Linked DNA regions of Homo sapiens: region 2 is linked to region 1. The links come from fine-mapping of genetic effects on gene expression. Tissue or cell type: whole blood. Region 1 holds a variant in brackets; the other region holds the start of a gene. All regions are shown on one strand. Distances are between the middles of the regions.

Region 1 (2,761 bases):
GTCCCAAAAGGACATAGGCTGCATTATTTCATGTATATAACATTCTCTAAATGAGTTGGAGAGCAGATGAGAGGTGGCCAGGGGTTAGGGACAAATGGGGCAGAAGGCAGGTGTGACTACAAGGGACAGCATGAGGGATAGCTTACAGCCACAGGATAGTTCTGCACCCTGGTGGTTACATAAATCTGCATGTAATACAACTGGAGTGATAGACATTGCATCAATGCCAGTTCCCTGGTTTTGATATTGTACTAAGTTATGTAAGATAGAATCACTGAGAGACACTGAGTCAAGGGGATCTGGGACCTCTTTGATTATTTTTGCAACTTCCTGTGAATCTGCAAAAGAGTAGGTACTCACTAGTGGCAACAATATACATTACCAGTCTAACATGTGTACACATAGATAGGTCTTGTTAGGATGTTGAAACTGTGCCAATGCATGTTATTATTACTACAGTTTTAAAGATTTCTCTAAAAAATCAAAAAGCAAAATGTATATGATAATTAAAGAATACAAAAAATTAAAAAACATTATTTGATAAAATTAAATTCTTATTGTGATTTTAAAAATAAAAAATAAATCTAAAAATTAAACTGTTAGCATTTCTGGTGTTTGTTTTGCATCTAGTGGGTGCTATGAAGAATCTATGTCATACTTCACGCAAGTGACATTATACATCCAGAACAACACATATGCATCTAAGAGGGAGTGAGCTGTTTAATAGCATGAAATATTTCCAGGCTGCAATGAAGAACCATTGTGAATTTTGCAATGATATATAAGTACCTATGAAACTATGAATTTGAACTCAAAGAGCAGAAAAAAAAATACATGTCTGGCACTATTCAGAGATGAGATTTCTTATGGAGAACCTACTACATTTAGGTGATCTGAGAGGAAGCCTCTGGAAGTTTAGATTTTTTTCCTATTGCTTCCACGTTCAATTCCTCCTAGACATGGAAGCAATGTTCCTGCTGGCAATGGCACAACCCATAAACCTAAGCTGATCCTGCAAGCCAAATCCATAACATTTGGATCCAATCACATTTTCTTTTGAGGACATACATAGGGCAAGAGATGAGGTGCTGGACAATGCCAGTCCAGTGAGCAGGTGTGCAGGGTCAGGGCCATGGGTCATGCAGGGCAGCACTGGGCACACCTCTCGAGGAACAGAGGTGCCCATTCCATACATCCATGAATAGATGTGTGCTGTTTGGGTTCTCATGGGCCCTCAAAGTGTAGAGTCCAAGATAGGGCCCTCCTTGGTTTCCTGGACAGGTAGCATCTTAGTTCTTATGTGGGTATGAAGTCACTGCTGACTCCATGGCCATGTGTCACCAGGTTTACACCTTACCCTCCAGCAGGCTGAGCTGTCAGAGCATATGGAGGCTGCCTTGCTCACCTTGGTCTTTCCACTCAGGAATAGCACACAGATGCTGGGGCTCAGAAGCTTTTGGGGAAATGAGCTGCACAGGATTCTCTGTGGGTCCACTGGGAGCCCAGCTCTGTGGTCTCTCCCTGTGAAGTAGAGCACAACCTCGCTGCAGGGAGACTTCTGGGTTTGCTGCTCCTGGGCCAGGGA[T/G]CTGCTACTGCAGTTATGCCTTGGACTCCGTGCCACTCTGAAATGCAAGGGCAAAGACTTCAACCAATGCTGCTTCCAGACCAGCTTATCCTAGTGTTACTTTTGGAAAATGCTTTCTTCTTGTTTTTTAAAAAATTTATCAAGCATTAGTTTCTTTAGAGATGGCCCTCCAAATCCCTTCCCTGTCAGTGTGCTCATGCCCTTCCTCCTGCCAAGAGGTGGAAATGATGCTACAGTAGTTCTGCATGTAGACCCTAAGAAGCCTGGAAGCTTCACTGTCTTTCTCTCTGGAAGCCAAGCTGTCATATTTTATAAGATTTGCACTGTCTAACGAATGATGAGAGGGCATGGAGGGAAAGAGAGTCTGCAAAGGAAGAGCACTGAGGCACCAGTCTTGTGAATAAAGCTTCCCTTGGATATTCGAGCTCCCAGCCCCCTAGTGAATGCAGCCAGGTGGCTCTCAGTCCATGCTGTGTGGAGCAGAAGAACCCCCCAGCCAAGCCCTGCCTGCTTCCTGTCCCACAGAATTGTGAGAAATAATAAGTAGTTGTTATTTCAAACCACCATATTTTGTTATGTAGCAGCAGATATCTGAAACACTCCTCAATAAAGCTTGGGAAAACTTGACTGTTAAATGTTTGATTGAGCACCTACTATTTCTTAGGTCTGTACTAGGGGCTATGGCTATGGAGATAAACAAGAAAAATTCCCTGACTCAAGAGCTCACTAATCAAAATGGCAAGGAGGAAATTATAACAGAGCAATTTGCAGAATGGATGAGCAATAGGAAAAGTGTAGGGGACTGTAGAGGACTAGGAGGGAGGGAGAATCCTATCCCACAAAGGCAGGATCAAGGACTGAAATCTCCCCCAGTGCCACCACCCAGCAACAACTACTGGGGGCAGTTTTTTTTTTTTTTTCAGTTGCAAGATTTAATAGAGTGAAATAGAGTGAAAACAGAGCTCCCATACAAAGGGAAGGGACCCAAAGGCGGTTGCCGTTGCTGGCTCGAATGCCTGGGTTTATATTGCAATCCTTGTCCCTCCCACTGTGCTCTCAGGCAATAGATGATTGGCTATTTCTTTACCTCCTGTTTTTGCCTAATTAGCATTTTAGTGAGCTCTCTGATTGGTTGGGTGTGAGCTAAGTTGCAAGCCCCGTGTTTAAAGGTGGATG
Region 2 (2,761 bases), 59 kb before region 1:
ATAGATTTTATTTAACCCAATATATCCAAAATACTGTCATTTCAGTAAAATAATTATTAATGAGATATTGTACATTCTTTTTTTGTACTAAATCATCAAAATTTGGTGTGTCTTTTTCTCAATTTGGACTAGTGACATGCCAAGTGCTTAGTAGCCACATGTGGCCAGTGGCCAGCTCATTACACAGGAGTGGGAGGGTGGAACTAAGCTCTCGCAGAGGTATCTGGCTTGTCCTATCCCTTGGGTCATCACTAGACTTGCCCCCTCCTCAGCAGAGCCATGCAAGTTCCTCCTTTGCCCATTGGGGTACACAGGGTTCAGCCCATGCGAAAGCACCCCACAGAGGGGTCCTGACGTCTGTGGAACACACTGGAAGGCTGGTCCCATCCAGGAAAATCATCCAAGTGCTTGCAGTGTGCTAATAAGATGGGTGTGTTCCCTGTGAATCCACAGGAGGCTGGAGGCCCCCCGCTGCAAACACCTGGTGAGACACAAACTGTTTCCAAGCTCCCAGGCAAATGCTCCATCCACCTCCAAAGACCCATCCTCCACTTCATTGTTTACAAAAGGAGCTCAGCCCTCCCAGATACTGGCCACCTGAAAAGACACATTCTATTTTTGTAAAAGACAGATGTTCTCATTCAAAATGACACTTTCCGTGGCTAAGAAGTTGTTGTCCATGGAGATGCTGTCTCTAGCCCCATACAGTGGCCAAGTCTTCAGGTCACTGTGCTGGGTCGCTGGCTGGACACAGGCTGGCTAGCCCAGTCCTGGACTCTCCTGACCCCCATCTCTTGCTGGTCTGAGTCTGCTCCCGCATCCACCCGTCCTGCCCCCAGACCCTGCAGCTTTCTGAGTGTTCTGGCAGGAAAGCCTGCCTGCCCCTGGCCTGCTTGAGGAAATACTGTCTGCAAAGCAGCGGGAACGAAGACCCTCGCTTGCACCCAGCTGTCTCTAGAAGCCAGGGCATGGCCTTCCCTGGTAAGGGGTGCTTCTGTGTTGGCCACAGGGCAAATCTTGGGCATTTCCTTTTTAGTAAAGAAGCAAAGTTTCCTTAAAGTTGCCACCAGGTCACCTGGAGCGACCGAGGGCCTCTGTAAAATGTGGAATGTGGGGCGAAGTGTGCACACCCACTGGGGCACTAAGCCGGCCACCGCCCTTTTGCAACTTCAGGTCGTGTCCCCACCCAGCCCAGGAGTTTCACGAGGAAGGGCACTTCCTCAGGAGGATGCTCACTATTCAGCGGCAATGGTCCCAGAACGCCCGCCCCATGTGACACATGGCGTGACGGCTGGCCAAGTGTCCGCGCACGTTTGCCAAGAGGCACATGCGGTGCCCAGAGAAACCCCAGAAAGTTGGACTTACCCCTCCTGGCCTGCCTGATCTTTGGGCTCAGCATGTTCTTGCAGCCGTCCGGCCAGCCCCGCAGGGCCGTTCATGCTGTCATCCACTTGCTTTTGCTCGTCCTCGCGCCTAGTCGCCCCTCATGTCCTGCTCGTTCGGGGCCCCGTGGCCGCTGGCGTCACCCGTCAGGCTCCCTCGGCTACCTCTCCTGGCTCCGGACGGACGGCTCGCCTTGGACTACATAAACCTCGATGCATTATTTATCCATCCCAGAATTAATTCCCATCCAAGCGGACCATTAAAGCCTCAGTAATCACTGCTGATCAATCACTGGACCAGGGCGGGGCAGTCCCTCCGCCTGGCCTGGGCGCACGCGTGGCTGTCCAAGCTGAGCGCGGGGGCGGGGCGGGGCCGAGAGGGGCGGGGCCAGCCAGAGACGCGGGGCGCGGTCCTGGCCCGGGAGAGGGTACTGGGGTTCCGGCCATCCTTTGCTGAGGCTGGAAGAAATGCGCCTTTCAGCCGCCGCCTGGGAGCCGCACTCCCTGCCAAGCCCGGGTGGGATAGCGCTTTGGTGAGAAGGTAGCCGAGACCCCCCCCCCACCCCAGAGCCCAATCCACGGGGACCCGCTTATGAGCTCACTGTTTTACGTGTTGAAAGTCAGGTGTGTCTGGGAAGGAGCAAGCAGCCCGGCAATGTAAACTCCTCAGGAGACTCCCAACAGGAAGATGCCTGTTAGGGATACTATTTATGCCTCTTTAGTAAGGTGACAGGAATAAGAGGGCAGGAAGCACTTAACTCAGGGCTCTTCATAGGAAGATCTGAATTGAATAGTGAATCTCTGCTAATTGCCATGTTTCTGTTTGATGCTGGCATAATTTTAAAGGGTGTATACTGGGGCTTTGTGAGGAGCGGAATCCAGCCTCAAGATGCTAAAAATTACCCAAGGAATGCAATCATAACAATAGCTATCATTTATTAGGCACCTACTATGTGTCAGGCACTGAGGCTGGTGCTTTACATTCAATATCTCATTTAACTCTCAAACTCCTGAAGCAGGTGCTATATATATAGCGTTTCAAATCTGGAAAATAAGGCACAGCAAGGTTGAATCACCTGCCCAAAGTCATACAGTACCGAGCAGCAGGGCGGGCACCAGAACCCAGGGCTGTGTCTACAGCTCCTGCTGCTCTGTGATGCCAGCCTCTCCACCCTATTCCCATCACTGCATGGTAACAGCTCCTGGCTTGAGCCCCCGATGAACTTGCTGAACGGTGACCTGCCTCTGTGCCCCTGATAATCACTCCGTGTATCCTCTTAGGCATCTGAGCTTGGGTCTGGCTATTTGGGCCTGAGAACTGTGTGACCCTTTCAGTAGCTGGTAAAGAGGGATTTGAACAATGCCCTCCCCTGCTCAGA

What was found. PIP is the estimated chance that this variant, and not a neighbour inherited with it, causes the effect.
Region 2: it holds the start of ARHGAP22, and the variant in region 1 is fine-mapped to the expression of ARHGAP22 in whole blood (INTERVAL, PIP above 0.99).

Annotation. Positions count from the first base shown.
Region 1 is chr10:48,662,791-48,665,551 of GRCh38, forward strand. No RefSeq gene overlaps it. Among named protein-coding and RNA genes, the nearest start is that of WDFY4, 21 kb to the right of the region's middle. The variant T/G (reference allele first, on the strand shown) is at 1,586.
Region 2 is chr10:48,603,398-48,606,158 of GRCh38, forward strand. It overlaps ARHGAP22 (Rho GTPase activating protein 22), which reads right to left and starts at 1,676. Exons shown (of 10, transcript NM_021226.4): 1 at 1,366-1,676. The coding sequence starts at 1,399. RefSeq lists an enhancer at 1,097-1,827 and a silencer at 1,684-1,843.